Regions from separate parts of the Homo sapiens genome. Here all the other regions are reported to be linked to region 3. Evidence: microRNA targets listed by miRTarBase, many of them from high-throughput screens and not tested one by one. Region 3 holds a microRNA gene; each other region holds the end of a gene's coding sequence.
What was found. The annotated mature microRNA hsa-miR-5100 reads UUCAGAUCCCAGCGGUGCCUCU and lies in region 3 at 1,338-1,359, shown strand. An mRNA with a match to its seed (bases 2 to 7 or 8) in the 3' UTR can be bound and repressed. Matches are read on the target gene's strand: a 7mer-m8 pairs with bases 2 to 8, a 7mer-A1 pairs with bases 2 to 7 and ends in A, and an 8mer does both.

Region 1: the mRNA of NOTCH2 is a reported target of hsa-miR-5100. Seed matches in the 3' UTR shown: 7mer-m8 at 2,145-2,151.
Region 2: the mRNA of ZBTB49 is a reported target of hsa-miR-5100. Seed matches in the 3' UTR shown: 7mer-A1 at 443-449.
Region 4: miRTarBase lists TMA16 as a target of hsa-miR-5100. Seed matches in the 3' UTR shown: 7mer-A1 at 760-766.

Annotation. Positions count from the first base shown.
Region 1 is chr1:119,912,084-119,916,083 of GRCh38, forward strand. It overlaps NOTCH2 (notch receptor 2), which reads right to left. Exons shown (of 34, transcript NM_024408.4): 34 at 1-4,000. The coding sequence ends at 3,223. Among named protein-coding and RNA genes, the nearest start is that of ADAM30, 18 kb to the left of the region's middle.
Region 2 is chr4:4,321,016-4,325,015 of GRCh38, forward strand. It overlaps ZBTB49 (zinc finger and BTB domain containing 49), which reads left to right. Exons shown (of 8, transcript NM_145291.4): 8 at 1-768. The coding sequence ends at 301. Among named protein-coding and RNA genes, the nearest start is that of ZBTB49, 33 kb to the left of the region's middle.
Region 3 is chr10:42,996,293-43,000,443 of GRCh38, forward strand. MIR5100 (microRNA 5100) reads left to right here and starts at 1,271; the gene lies at 1,271-1,389. RefSeq lists an enhancer at 1,138-1,638.
Region 4 is chr4:163,518,992-163,522,991 of GRCh38, forward strand. It overlaps TMA16 (translation machinery associated 16 homolog), which reads left to right. Exons shown (of 7, transcript NM_018352.3): 7 at 343-1,548. The coding sequence ends at 523. Among named protein-coding and RNA genes, the nearest start is that of TMA16, 26 kb to the left of the region's middle.

The sequences.
Region 1 (4,000 bases), not on the chromosome of region 3:
ATAAAAATGCTTTCATATAAATTTCATCTTAACTACCTTTAGAATGAAACGGAAAAGTAAAAACAAAGTGTGCATTTTCCTTACTACGTTTAGTCAGGAATATGCGGTCATTTTATTGGTTACTGGGTTTCTCATACAAACAGATATAATATCACTTTTAAGAGAAATGTACACAAGGAAGTAACCATAGTACCACTTATTAGTGGGGGCCTCTGGGTACATAAATGTGTCCTCCCAAATAGTCATCATACATTCAATGTATTGGTTAGGGCCAAAATCCCTAAACCACCTCTCAACAAAACATTACACCTTTGGTTCTTTATTATGCAAAAATTACAAATTGGCAAATTCAATAAGAGGATGCAATGGATTTGAGCATCACAGCCAATTGCTTATACTAAAATATTTTAATTCTCAGACTCTCTTTCCCTCATACCTTTCCCTTCCCCACCTCACATAAGAAAATGATGCTTAAAACAAAACAGAGGAAGCAAATAAACAAACAAAAAAACCTATCCCCAAAGGCAGGCAGAAGAGGAGTCAAAGAAAGAAAGCATTTATAACAATAAAAATAAACCAAAAATAGCAGGGGAGGATCTATACATGGCATAAAAGATGTGTCTCATAAAAACTGAGTCTCCAATTCAGAACCCAAATGAGAAAGTGATTATCCATCTTACCTTCCCTTTTATTAGATACCACACAATTCAAGAGTTCTTAAAATCTAAGAGATCAGTAAAAAGTTTGAAAGGCAGTGTTGTCCTCCTCATCACTGAAACCTGTTGTCTGTAATGACAGCTTTCACATTCCCTTTCTCCAAACCCAAAGGATCCAAATTAAAGTAGTCCAAGAAAAAGAAACAAGCAATTTGGTCTGACATTGTGCTTAAGGAAAAGGGAGGATATAAAATATCCAGTGGCTGGATCAGTAGCTGATACTTTCAGAAGTGGGGCTGGAGCAGGAGGGCAGAAAGGGGCAGGTACGCTGTGGTCCACAGAGGTCCATGCAGATAGGTTCTCCCCATCTGTGAATAATAAATGGGTCCAAGGGCAGAGAGTCACCATTTAGAATGATAAAATGTTTGCACACTATGAAAGAGGCTGACAGAATGTTGCCACATGGAGAGAATAAAGCAGAGAATGAACAAACTTAATCTGCTTATCTCAGGGCAGAAGTAATTATTTTTGTTGGTTCAATAAATTTGGATAGGACTGAAAAAACCATTTGTAAACTATTATGCCAACAGACACGCAGGGTTTCCATATGGGGCCACCGACAGACAAATCAGGTAAGTGGGAAGCACTGATGCATACTTGCAGCCATAGAAGGAATGAGAACTGTCATTCAAACCAAAAGAGTCGGGAATTCACCTGTTAATATCTACAAAATGCCCAGGCAGAACTTATTTTGCAGGTGTCATGGGCATCACAGCACTGGACGGAAGTTGCAGTGTAGCCATGGACCAATTATTAACTGGCCCAAGGAGAAGAGGAAGAAAACTATTCTTTATCTACAATTAACTAAAATGCTTCTGCCCTTAAAAGAAAGTCAAAGAAATTGCCAAGAGCATGAATACAGAGAGTGGATTCAGGTGAGGGGCAATCAGTCTGAACAATGAGCAAGTCTATAGTTGTCCATTATCATCTAAAAGGTGACTCTAGGAAAGGAAAATGTTCTGTTGAGTTTCTACGTTAGTTGCCAAAGGGAATGTCATGGCCGCTTCAGAGGAAAAGAAATGGTAGCAGAAAATAGCAAAGGCTGCTATATAGTTCCTCCTTTTCCAACCTTCTTATAGGGCTGTTTTGGATCATAGAAAACAAGTCCAACTTTCCAATTCCTGCACTTGAACATATAAAGTCCATGTCTTCAGTGAGAACATACTGGGTATACCAGTAACACGGACCACACGGTGTGAAAGAAAGATTGGTGAGCAGGCCTTTAAGCAGCAAGATAATCAGTAGAGACTGATCATCTGACAAACGGAAGACAACTGTCACTGGGTCCCTTGGGCTAAGGAAAGTTCAGTCCTAAATGGCAAGGGTACAACATTTGAGACAGTGTCTTCTGTGGATATGAAAGGAAAGGCTCAACAGTTAAGACTAGTTTCATATGCTGGGTGAGTGAGTGAAACAGGCCTAGAATGCTCAGATCTGGGACAAATGTGTTCCATACAGGCAGTCAATGGAATGCTTGGCAGGAAGTAGGGGGACCTGTGGGTGGGTAACTGGCTCTTGCACGAGTTAACTTGTCTCTTGGTCATTCCAACATTCCAAACCTTTTTCTGGTTTTAAAAAAGTGGGGAGGGTCATAGTAACTAGACTATCAAGGATAAAACTTTACACTGACCAGGCCCATACACAGAAAAACAACAAACTCACACCCTTCTTCCTGGTAAAGTTTATATGAAGACCTGCACACAGACAAGAAAAATTAAGGTGCAGCCTCTTGAAGGGATCTCCTGCCCCCAAAATTTGTTGAAGAAAAGTATTCTTCTCCCCTTCTCTCTCCAGGAATGATATATGCAGGAGAACACAATACAGTATGTCCATTTTCCAAAGAAACAACATACTTGAAAGGTTTGTGCTGAGAACCATACCAAAGTAAACCTTGTGAGACTCCAAGGGATACCGGGAAGACAGGAGGGGAAAGGAGACCAAAGTTGCTTTCATGGGCCAGAATGATCAAAAGCACAAAGGTCTTGCCCTATAACATGCTGGTAGGGCTACAATCACGGAGAGGTGCAAAACCAAAAGCACCAAATGAAGACAAAAGAATGTCCAAGGAGGAGGAGATGCGTAGGTCAATTCAGGCAGAATTCCAGGGCATAATTCCCAACAGGACGCTAGTGTAGAATCTTCTCATGGATATGGCAGAAGCCTGCAGGGCTTAAAATGCAGTCCAAGCTGCAAGAATGTCTGGGCTTCAATAAGCATCCATCTTATTCTCCAAATAGAAGAGAGTAAACATGGACCCAAGGCTTGTATTCATCTTGCATTTCCACAAACTTGTCTTATTAGATTAGAATAATCAATAAGCCTTGCAGATACCCAGTGAAACTGACGAATTGCTTCTCTTGCATTATCTGAATAAGAACATCTTCTCTTTCCTACCTCTAGAAGCTGGCTCCAGAGATTTCTTCATTTCTCTCCCGGATGACCTTCATTTGTTCCTCAGCAGCATTTACAAAAGTCAGTTATGTCTCTACACTGGAGGTGGACTCTCTCACGCATAAACCTGCATGTTGTTGTGTGGTGGCTCAGACATGTGTGTCCCAGGTCCCCGCTGACCTCCTCCAGCACCCCCAGGGGTAGGGCTGGTGGTCACATCTGACCAGTCAGAAGCAGAGTGGGGTGATGAACTTGACCACTGGTCAGGAGACTCTGGGGATGGTGTCAGGTAGGGATGCTCACCCTGGAGGTGACCACTGTGACTGGGTGTTCGCTCAGCAGCATTTGAGGAAGCATAACTGTGCTGTGAAGGGGGTGTGGGGTACTTGCCCACAGAGGCTGGGAAAGGATGATAGGCTGGGAGAATGGTCTGAGCTACCTGCCCGTCCTGCTGGGGCATCATGGCAGTGGGGAAAGCCACACTGGGCAAACGGGCCATTTCTGGAATCTGGTACATGGTGGGCAGGGGGCCCGCAACAGCTGGAGGGCAGGTGGACTGAGGCTGGGGAGCCCCCGCTGGTTGGGCAATACTGCCTTTAGGGATGAGCTGGAAAGTCACAATGGGGGGCAAGGGCTCCCGAGGGGTGGTTATGTGCTTCCCTTCAGGTGGCCTGCTCTGGGGAGCTATGCCAGGATGGGTGCCCTCAGCTGGAGCCAGGACCATACCAAACATCTCATTGTACTGGGTCTCATTCACCTCCATGCGGTTCATCCAATCTGCTGGGACTGGGACTGGATGGAGCCTACTCAAGCTTCCAGCACTGCCACTGCCTGGAGACACAATGTGGTGGTGGGATAGCAACTGGCTCACTGAGGGAAGCACAGTGCTGGCC
Region 2 (4,000 bases), not on the chromosome of region 3:
CCAGGAGAAGCTGAGTTTGGATCCTGGTAAACTTGCCAAGCCCCAGATGCAGCAGACACAGCCTCAGGCCTATGCTTACTCGGATGTGGACACCCCAGCCGGTGGCGAACCACTGCAGGCCGATGGCATGGCCATGATCCGTTCCTCTCTGGCTGCTTTGGACAACCACGGCGGTGACCCCCTGGGCAGTCGAGCATCTTCCACCACTTATAGGAACTCAGAGGGTCAGTTTTTCTCCAGCATGACTCTCTGGGGGCTAGCGATGAAGACGCTGCAGAATGAAAACGAGTTAGACCAGTGATGTACCGCGCTTCTCCACGGTAGAGGCGTGTTCTCAGTTTAGCAGGCTGGTGTTAAGGCTGTAGGAGGACCCAGTTTCCCCATGACAGTGCCTTCTAACTAGCCAGAGAATAGGTAGCTTCCCTCCTGATGATGGCTCATAATCTGAAGCATCTTGAGCTGGGGGTGTGAGGGGGAGGGCCTGCTGGCTCACCGTGAGGCAGCCGCGGGAGGGAGCGCTGACGTCACAGAAGCGAAGGCTTGATGCTGTCTCAGCAGCCTCAGCTGTGGGGGGGAAGCGCGTGTGCATCGTGTCAACTACTGTACATGTTGGTCATGTGAAAGGAATTATATATGTATAGTATTACAAGTATTTTTGCATTTTTACAAGATTGAAATTTGTAGCATTTTGTATTATTTACACAGAATTTATTTGTATATGAAACTCATACCATAATTTAATTCGAATAAATGAAACTTTTCTATATATTATATGTTTCCTCTAGCATTTTTATTAATCTAAAGACTATAGGGGTATAAAAATAAATAGCAGCGAGGACTCACTCTGCAAGGATAAGAACCTCATTGGTCAGTCTCCCTCCTGGTACAGCGGGTTTCTCAGTGGTCAGAACTGCCTGACTCCTGGCTGCCACTTACTGGCAAGGTCATGGGTGAGCTGTTCACCCTCTCAGGATCTTCTCTGGAGTTTCTTTTTTGCAGTATGAGAGGAACATCTTCCAGTATTTTCACAAGGCTTGTCTGATCTGAGCACTCACTTGAAAATACCTGCCCGGCGCCTGGCCCTTGACAGGGCGTTCTAAATATTTACTTCCCCTTCCCAGCGGGCTTGACAGCCTCTGCAGGAAGGAGATGTGCCCGTGGCTCTGTCGCTGGAATATCAAGGTGAGACTGGGGATGTGGCACGTCACAGGTGATCTGCTTATAGCACTGCCTGCACGGAAGACTGGAGAGCACCCTACACGGAGGACTGTGTGGAGAGCACCCTCGAATACTCGTGAGCAGCTCTAACTCAGAAGTACAAGATACTCAACGAGAGACCAGTGAGGAGGAGAGGATTTTCATAGAAAAACAGCACAGTTGCAGAGTAGGGCATCAGCTCTGAAGTCCATTACAGGTGCATTTCGTGTTTTCCCATCCATCAGCTGCACTACGCTTCTGCCAGGCTGGCTCAGCGAGCATCTGTTGTCCCCATTGCACACATGGAGTGAACTTGGAACACAATGGCCGCACGTGAGTGCAGATCTTCCTCCTTCCTCCCCATGTCCTCTCCTCTCATGGCCTCCTCTGGCTCCTCCCTCATCCCAACTCGTGTAGCTCTTCAGCCTCCCAGCACCTACAGTGCATCCATCCCCTTAGCTGTCCCTGTGGACCCTCCTTGGCCATGGTTCACCCACCAACCCCTTTATCCATTCCACCTGGTGAACCTCCAGCACTACACACAGGGAGCCCAGCCAGGCTGGTGAGAAACAGCCATTCTCTAGTTTCTACAGCTCTCCTGAGCCCCCGCCGTATCCTACAATCCCCTCTCCTTGATCCAGGCGACGTGCTGCCCTAGGCACTTGTGTCACATCTTCTCAGACCTCTGCAGCTCGCCTGTCCTCCTCCTTATGGCCTTGCTTCCTATTTCTCTCAGAACCTAGAAGCAAATAGGGGCCAGGCGTGGTGGCTCACACCTGTAATCTCAACACGTTGGGAGGCTGAGGCAGGTGGGTCACTTGAGGTCAGGAGTTCGAGACCAGCCTGGCCAACATGGTGAAACCTCATCTCTACTAAAAATACAAAAATTAGGTATACTGCCACATGCCTGTAGTCCCAGCTACTCAGGAGGCTGAGGCACGAGAATCGCTTGAACCTGGGAAGCGGAGGTTGCAGTGAGATCGCACCTCTGCACTCCAGCCTGGGCAACCGAGCAAGGCTGTCTCAAAAAAAAAAAAAAAAAAAAAGGAAAAGAAAAAAGAAACAAATAGGAAAGAACATTCCTCAAGCTCCCATAACACCTCCCTACCTCCCCACATCTGTGCCCGTGGACTCTGCACTTTCCCATCTAAAACCAACCTGCCCCCAACCCCTTGATTTCCCACCTCTGCTTTTTCTCACTAAGTCTTATTATCACCATCTGACCTACTATATAATCTTCCCCTATTACGATGTAACCTCTTCTTTTTTTTTTTTTAAATAGATACAGAGTCTCACTATGTTGCCCAGGCTGGTCTCAAACTCCTGAGCTCAAGTAATCCTCCCGCTTAGGCCTCCCAAAGTGCTAGGATTACGGGCATGAGCCACCGAGCCTGGCCAGGATATAAACTCTTTGTGTCTCTTTTGTTCACTGCTTTATCCTCAGTGCCCAGAACAGTGCCTGACCCTAAATGCTCAGTAACAAATAGTCAAATGAATGTCTTTGGAATACTTTTTAGTCAAAATACTGGACCTCCTAGATTGATTGATTTTTTTCTCCTGAACCTTGTTCATCAGACTCCACTGAAATACTTTTTGCCCAGGTGGCCCACGACCTCCCCATTGCTAAACCGAGTGAGAATTCTCAGTCCCCTTCCTAATGACTCTGAGGCAGGATATGACACGTCGGCAGCAAGTGCATTCCTTTTTTCTCCTTGAAACAACAACCAAGAGGACCACTCCTGCTAGGATTCCCCTTCATGCACGGGTGGCTCTGTCTTGGACTCCTTCCCCTACCCCAACACACATCTTAAAGTTGGGGTGCCCCAACTTTAAGAACACAGGCCCTGGACCTCCTCTCCGGCCTTGGCTCTGTCCCTAGGCCATCTCCTCAATGACAGAGCAGGAGCACTGTCATCTTGGACAAACAACTCCAAAAGTTCCAGCTCCCTTTCTAACCTCATGCGTTTCAAGGAAATGCAGCCAGGAAGAGCAGACAATGAAACACAGATAAGACAGCTTGAGCACAGAGGGAGGAGGGAAAGTCTCTTCGTAACCACCAAACTTCACCCTCATACAATGGGCCCCAGTAAAACAGTGGGCCCTAATAAGCACATTTCTTTCCCTTTAGGCATGCTGAGATAGGGAAGCTAAAAGCAAACTCGGGTGGTATGCCTGCAGCTGCAGGAAGATGTGTGGGAACAGATGCAAAAACTCTCCCTCCCAGATAAGCAAGACAAAGAGACACAGAAACATTCCGAGCCTGTGATAAGCTCTCCCACCCTGAACCCTTAAATACTCTTATTTTGTAAGAGAGAGGGCCTCTGACCTAAGTCGGCCAGAAGCCCCTCTCAGGTTTATTTTCCAAAATAACCTATCTTTGACTGTTGAGTGGCTTTTCATGTTTCTTTCCTCTTTATTTAACTCTTACACTCACATCTCATGACCTTAAATACTGTCTGCCCATGACTCCTCCCAAAACTCTGGATTCCTGTCCTGAGCTGCCTACCAGCGTCTTCACAGACACCCCAGACTAAGAGCTTTCAAGACCAAGCTCCTTGTCTTCTCAATTCATGGCCACCTTATTAAATGGCAATCCTGTTCCTCCAGGATTTTACTCAGACTAAAAACCTTAAGAGTTATCTTACTTCATCAGTATAAGTATGGAGGTGCCTCCTGTATGCCAGGTGCTGGATTTGCCAAAGGCTCAGAAAACAAGACCCCTAGGCCAAGTCACATTTTTGAATAAATCTGCTTGATGAGGACAATAATTTGCTCTTGTAGAATAAAACTTTAGGGAATAGCA
Region 3 (4,151 bases):
GGATGGGATGAAAGTTGGTGTGGCCGGGCCAATCCCCAACTTAGACTTAAAGACACAGAGAATCCCTGGGAATGGAGACAGCGACTCCCAGATGATGAAGCAGCAGAGAGATCCTCCAAGGGTGAGTGACCTAGAGCACTTTACCAGCTTTGTAAAGGAAAAGGCATTTGCCTGGAGGCTGCAGGGCCCAGTCCAGCCTAGCTCCAGGACAGCTCCAACCCATCCTCCCATGGGTGGGGTGTCCCTGGTCCAGGCTAGGGACGGTCCAGGGTGGGTTGGCAGGACCTGCTGTGATCGTGAAGTTGGGAACTGCCTAAACCATCTTCTCAGAGCCTGTGTGTCCAGAGGGAAAACCCAAGCACGTGGAATATGGTTTACAAGCCGTGGTTGCTGAGGACAAGGTTGGTAATGAAGGCGCAGGGAAGCCTGGGAGGGCAGAAATGCACAAGGAGGGGTGGGGCTGGAGCCCGGCTGGTCCTGGTATCCTGGGCTTGGGGGGACCCTGCTCCTTTCCCTGGGAGCCCTGAGGCCTCAACTGGATGACAGGAGGTGGATATGCTGGTCCCTGAGGCACAGGCAGTATGAACCTCTGCATGGAGCTGGGTCTCAGCAGAAGCCCACCCAAGCCTGGAGTTTCCCAGCCAGGGATGCACCTTTTTCATCCCAGCAGCCTCTGTCCCTCAGTCCTGAGCCCTCAGGGGCCCTCAGGGCATGAAAGCAGGAATCCCAAATCCACCTTCCAGAATTACACGGGCTGTTCTTGGTGGTCAGGTGGCCTCTCGGGGCCAGGGTCCTTTTTAAGACTGGAACCTCTCCAAGCTCACCAGCACTCTCAGTGCACGCACGCACGCACACACACACACACACACACACCAGGATTTTAAACTCAGTCCAACAAATCTCAGCATGCACCAGAACTATTTCAGCATTTTAAGAGCCTGTATTGATTTTGGAAGGAGCCAGGCAGCGTGTGAAGGCCATTCTGTCTGGGATCCTATGCTGAGTCTGGGGTCTCTGTATGAGGGATTATCCATGTGTGGGGAGCCTTCCCCCTTCAGAGCTTTCCAGCTTCCCTCTGATCACATGTCCTGAGCACACTATCCCAAACCTAACCCCAGCTGGGCTCTAGCAAGAGACGAGGTCCTGTCTTGCTGGGAAAGGGTCATCCTTCCCACCCGGAGGCCCCTGCTCTGCCCCAGTTTCCTGCCACAAAGCCCAGACAGTCCTGGGAACCTGGGCTGGTGAGTCCCTCCATCACCTTCAGAAACAGCCATGAGGAGCTGGCAGTGGGATGGCCTGGGGGTAGGAGCGTGGCTTCTGGAGCTAGACCACATGGGTTCAGATCCCAGCGGTGCCTCTAACTGGCCACAGGACCTTGGGCAGTCAGCTGACCCTGCCCAGTCCCAGCATCCTCATCTGGTCTTAGCTAACAGGGACACACCTGAGGAGGTGGTCTTCATGTCACTTCCACTGGGACCAGTTTTCAGAGCAGCTGCAGGGGTCATCAGTTAAGGCAGTACAGCCCACTTACAGAGGAGGCGGGTGGCTTGGGGTGTGAAGGACGTGCCCAGGTGACATGCTGCTGAGTGGCCCCAACCCCATCCAGGCACCAAGCCAGAGCCTGTCCCCAGGGACCCCAGGGCACATCAGCAGAAGCTGGAGGATGTGGGTCTCCTGGGCCTGGAATCTCAGAGCCCACATTGGTTAATTTCACACGTCCGCTTGACTGGCACACAGGGGGCCTGGATGTTTGGCCAGACATTATGCTGGGTGTGTGTCAGGGGGGCTCTGGGTGAGATGAACACTTGAATCCATGGACTGCAAAGCAGACAGCCTCCCAGTGTGGGTAGACCCATCCAACCTGTCGCAGACCTAAGCTGAACACAAAGGCCAAGTAGGAGATAATTCATTCTGCCTGGCTGCCTTAAGCTGGGAGCTTGGTCTTTTCCAGGCTTCAGACCTGAACCGAAGTACAGGCTCTTCATGCATGTCAAGCCCCTGGCCTTCAGACTGGGACAAACTCCATCAGCTCTCCTGGGGCTCCAGCTGGCCAGCAGCAGATCTGGGGACTTCTCAGACTCCACTATCTCATGAAGCAATTCCTTGCCATCCATCTCCTTTAATAAACACACACGCATCCTATCACTTCTGTTTCTCGGGAAAACCTTAACTAATGCAGAGCCCGAGAGTGGGGCATGGCTCAGGGCTGCTGCACCCAGGAAGCATCTGTGCTCCCTGTGCTTCCAGGCAGGGACCCTCATGGAGGGGTGGGATGGTCGTACTTCCTCAGCCAGCACTTAGGGGCCGTGAGGTCCATAGCCATGAGCTGAGGGAGTGACCCCACAGTTTATGTCACTGTGGAGAAAGGCTCCCTGAGCTGTGGATCCAGCCAGTGGGTTGTAAACCTGACTAAGACACTCAAGCTGCTGCGGCCGGGGGCATGCCACAAACCCCCAGTGAGCCTCAGTTTCCCCCTGTAGAACAGGGGTGTGAGAGCAGTCTCCTCAGGGTGTAAAGAGCCCAGCAAATGCCGGGCACAGCTCATACCAGATAAGCATTAGCTGGTGGCAGAAAAGCTGGAAGACAGACTGCTGACCTCCACAAAAGGATCAGATTTGTGCCAGTCCTGGCCATGGACAACAGGTCCCAGGCTTGACCTGTAGGTGAAGAGCCCAGAGCCCAGGACCACATGCCAAGTGGGAGGCTCCTGGCCCAGAACACCACACCTGCCTAGCAGATGTGTCTCCTGGAAGTGGGAAAGCAGGACTCTCCAGGGAGCCCTGGGGATACAGAGGATGCAGCCCGCGAGGCCCTGGCCTTGAAGCCTTAGTGTCTCTGCAGGCCCCACCTGTGATTGGCCCCTCCAGGGTCACCCAGGAGGGTAAGATGCCCAGGGCCTGCATCTGTGCTGTGGGACACAGCCTGGCTTCTGAGGCCCATGGAAACCTTTCTCGGGAGCTTCTCAGGACCCCAGCCAGGACATCTGTGCCTGTCCGTGACAGCTGCCCTAGAACTGGCCACAGGCCTATGGCTGCCTTGCACTGTCAGCCCCCAACGCCCGTCGTGTCATCAGCATGTCTCAGATGCCTTCAAGGGCTGCCCACTCCATGATCCTTGTCCACAGCCCCAGCATGTCCCCTAGCGTCAGAAGTGTCCCCGGATCCTGCAAGCCAACCACATAGGACGTCCACCTCTGAGCCCCTCTGTTCTCCTACCCTCCTGCTGATCACAGCCCTGCTGCCTGGCCTCATGGTCCAGTGCATCTTTCTCCCTGGAGCTGCCACAGTGCACCACCTGCCTGGCTATGCATTGGTGACCCCTAGGAGCTCCAGGGGGACCTTCACACAGGCCCAGGACAACTGGGGAGTCCTGCCTGCCCTCCTTTGAGTCCAGAAGCCCTGAGCCAGGCTCTCTTCAGAGGGGTGGAGGTCAGCAGGCACCAAGGCCTGCAGTCCCCAATTCTCCTCTCCCAGCTGATCTCTCTTGCCACACCCTGTGCTGGCCCATGCCCGTGAGTCCGCCTGGCCACCCAGACGGGAGCTGATGTCTCCAGGAGACATACGGGACTTGCCATAGCCCAGGCCAGGGCAGTCCCTGGGAGACACAGGGCCTGGGAGGCTGCTTCACCTGCGGGGCTCCTGGGCAGGTGCAGTGCTCCCTGGAGTCCATCCTGGGACCTGTGGCCCAGCCCACCTCAGACTGGCCACAGGCCCTCTCCTGAGAACCCCTGCCTAGGCTCTGTAGCCTTAGAGCCTCACCTAGAAGCTCCCCCAGGCCCCTCCACTGGGCAGTGCTCAGCGCCCACCCCTCTCTAGTCTAGATTTTAGGGGGAGCCTGGGTCCAGGCTGCCCAGCCCAGCACATCCCCAATACATACCCAAGCCAGCCATGATTGCACCATGGGGCCAGGGGCAGTGGGGGTGGTTTGGGGTTGGTGGAGGCATCAGGGCCTGGGTCCCACAGCCAGCCTGGGCCTCCCAGGCCATTGAGCCCTCATCCTTCCAGTGCTCTGCGAGCAGGCGTCCCTTTGTGTGAGGACACCTGTGGTGCACCCCTTCAGTCAGGCATCCCTGCAACCCACTTGGGGGTGCAGACATGAAGGAGCCCATGGGAGGCAGCATGATGGCCCTCTACATCCCCAGGCTCCTGTGC
Region 4 (4,000 bases), not on the chromosome of region 3:
AAGAATAACAGTTGATTACTGAAACTTAACTGGGATGTACTTCTGTGTGTGAAAAGGAAAACCTCTTCTGACTGTATTTTGGAGATTTGTCAGGTATGATACAGTTCCTACTTTTGATTGCAATTCTTGATCTGGGTAGCATGAGAGAAGGAGATACTCAGGTTAGAGAGGATGAAAGAATAGAACAGCTTTCTAGTAATTTGTGCCTAATATTTTCCTTTAACGCTTTTGAAGTTTTGAATATGTAGGATCCTCAGAGTTTCGAAAATTTACTATCTCCTGTTTTTCCACATTAACTCTTACCAACACTCTGCACTCTTTTTTTTTTTTCCTTTTGTCTAGGGAATGGGACTTTGATCTGAAGAAATTACCAAACATTAAAATGAGAAAAATTTGCGCTAATGATGCAATTCCCAAGACGTGCAAGAGGAAAACTATTATAACTGTAGACCAAGATTTGGGGGAATTGGAACTAAACGATGAATCAAGTGATTCAGATGAGGAAATGACTGCAGTGGCCTAATTGTCTTCACTTGAATTGAAAATAAATAATTTGAGAGCTTCAAATTATATTCATTGATTATGGTACCTAATTGTCATGATACAAAAATTTGATACTGACATTCTCTTATATGATGAGAGTTTCATTTGCGTTTCAAAAATGGTGTTATGATACTTATTTTAAAATGAAGATTGCTTTTCATTTCCATTAAGTTGCTAAAATAGATAGATGTGATCTGCAGAAGTTGTTTAGTCTTCATCTGAATTTCAGGCTGGGAGGGAGCAATATAACTAAGGACAAAAAATGTTTTGTTTTTCTTGTGTATTTATGATCACCTAATTTCACGTTTTGTGAAATGGACAGTAACCTGTTTCCTGAAAGATTCCTGTGGGTACTTTTTGAGCTGTGATAATAGCAAAATTGTTTTTCGGTAATAATATCACACTAATGCTTCTTTTAAACATTAAACCTATTTTCCTTTTTTACAGAATAAGGGAAAATGTGATAAGAAGTTTGTATACATTTCTGGATTATAGATTATTATTTATCTTTTGAACCAGAGCTAAATGGTAAAAGAAAAAAAATCAGTGATGATTGTTATGTTGATCTCCCACAATTAATTTATCTTTTGACAAAGGGGATAAAGAGTTTCAGTTTAGCTCCTTTTGATTGTATATTATTTTTTGCTTTTTTATTGTGAAAAGAGGTAGGTTTTATTTGTGGAGAGAGAGTTGAAGATTAGGGAACCAGTGATTTTAATTATGCTACTTTTTCTTCTAAGAGATAAATTGATATATCATTCAGTGTCATGAAAAACATGAATGTTGTACAATTTTCTTCCTCAAAAAACTTTTTAAATGTAAGTATCCTTATTTTTTTTTTAAAAGAGCACAATGTAGGTGTATTTGAGTATTTTCAAGAAAAGAATAAAAACATTAATGCAGTATTAGGTTAACTGGATATCAACTAAGCCTTGTTAACAGTTAAAGTATTATAACTTTTTTTACTTCTGAAAATTAAAAATAAAATTTATTTCTGCAATTTCATTTCTTACAGTCCTAATTTTTTTTTTTTTTTAGTGATGTAACATGTTGATTAGTTAGTAATCTGTGTAAAAGTGTGGTTTTAGGATTCCATGAGTAGTTAATGTCTGAAAGTTTCCTTCTCTCTCCCTTTTGGCTCGTAGTCTTAAAATGGTTGTAAAAACTGAGTCATAAATTGCATTAAAGAGAATAAGAACTGCTTTATCTGGACTGACACTTAAAAGCCCCTACTGTTAGATGAATAACTTGTGAAAAGTGACAGATTGTCCTCCTTCTTAAACATTTGTTTCTAGTTTCCCATGTGTTGTCAAAGCAAAGATTACAACTAACAAGCTACACTGCCGGGAAACTAGGTAAGTATTTGCTGAATGAATGCATATAACATTTAGGACCATAATAATCATGTCACTCCTAGTTGGATCAAAGCAGCCTCAGAGATAACTTGTCTTTAGAGTGATGCTTAAGATGTTCTTACTCCTTGCCTGTTGAACATGTTCTTTCTGGGGTGATAACTTGTGCTCCCTTCATCTAGACCACTTTTAAGTCAGTGGCATATTTTTGTAAGACAACGTCTATAGTTCATGGCCATGGAACAAAGTAAAGGTAACTTATTTTTGTAAACTAGGGACTGGCAAACTTTTTCTTTATAAAAGGCCAGAAAGTAAATATTAATATATTAGGCATTATAGGCCAAATGTAGTTTCTGTTGCATATTCGTGTGCATATGTGTGTTGTTTGCCGCCCTCTAAAAATATAAAAACCGGCTGGGTGCGGTGGCTCACGCCTCTAATCCCAGCACTTTGGGAGGCTGAGGCAGGTGGATCACTTGAGGTCAGGAGTTCGAGACCAGCCTAGCCAACATGGTGAAACCCCATCTCTACTAAAAATACAAAAATTTGCCAGGTGATTACATGCCTGTAATCCCAGCTACTGGGGTGGCTGAGGCAGGAGAATTGCTTGAACCCGGGAGTCAGAGGCTGCAGTGAGCTAAGATTGTGCCACTGCATTCCAACCTGGGTGACAGAGTGAGACCCTGTCTCAAAAAATAAATAAGTAAAATAATAATATAAAAACCATTCTTAGTTAACGGCCATACAAAATAGGCCAGGGGATTGACTTGCTTGTCATAATTGGCTGACCCCTTGTCTAAACCAATGAGCTGAACTTCCATGGACATAATGATACATTTCTAAGTTCAGAGCAGCTGACTCACATCTGTGGTCTTTTCCTCTAATATCCTAGTTGCTTCCTTGCCGTAATTACTGACAGAGGTGTCCCTTCAGGACCTTGCTTACCTCAAATAGAAGCTTTTTTCTATTCTTACTTTCTGTGTGCTTCAGGGGCAGGAGATTGGGTAGGTGTCCTTTTTGCTTTACTGCCACTTCAGACTTTCTCCCTTAGGTCTTTGAAGTTCTATTCTTGCCTTCTTTCCTTACTATCTTACCTCCCAGAAGAACCTTCTGCCCATTCATAGAATACTTTAGCTCGTGGCCTAGTTTTCTTCTCCCCTGCAGCAATCATTTTAGTGATTCCTTGTGGATAACAAATAGTGGCTAGCAAATATAACAACAGTATGAGTTTTAAGTTTTCCAGTCTTTTTCTCTGTCCCATCAGAGGCCTCTCAGTGGTCACACCTGGATCCTTATCAGCACCTCCACTCTGTAGACCTGATTTTGAGTATTCCACTCTCCATTCACTGTCACCACTCCTCTTCATTGCTGAAGTTCTGCACTTTGACCTCACTCTCATTACGCATCATCTGTCTTGTTGAGCTTAGCTTCAAGTTCATAGTTGCTTCCTTGCATATACCCTGAATTCCTTGTCTCTGACTCTAGTTATTTCTCTTTCAGAACCCAAACCAAGTAACAGCTATGTTTCCTTCATGCCTGTTCTCACGCAGCTCAACATCGCTGGAGAATATCAAACAGACCATTTTCATACTGATGTTTGCAAATCTCAAGTGGATTCTCAGTACTGCTTAGTGATCTTATTATGTTCCCCTACTAAGTTCATTTTCTAACTTTGAGATAATTATTTTACTACTTTTTTATATTTTTTTCTAGCTTGACTTGAATACTAGCCTTCTCAATGTTCAGCCCTTGGCTTTTTATACATCTTTGAGAAAATACAAATTACCACTTTCTTTTGATTTAATGGATATATCTTTTTTTTTCCTTTCAAAGGAAAATACTACTTATGTTCTGTTTCCCACTCCTTATTTTCTCAGAAACCTGATTTTTCTAAGTTTTTCACGCAATTTCTCAAGCCAGGAATCTGCCTGTAAAATCATCCTTGATTTTTCACTTTCTCTCTTCTATGCCTTCCCACAATATAATTTAATTAGCGAGTATTTCTGATTCCACTTCCAAAATGAAAATCAAATTGGCCCGTGTCAGGCAGTCTCACTTTTCATCCTTACCAAAGTCGCCATGTCTTGCCTGTCCTATGTGCAGTA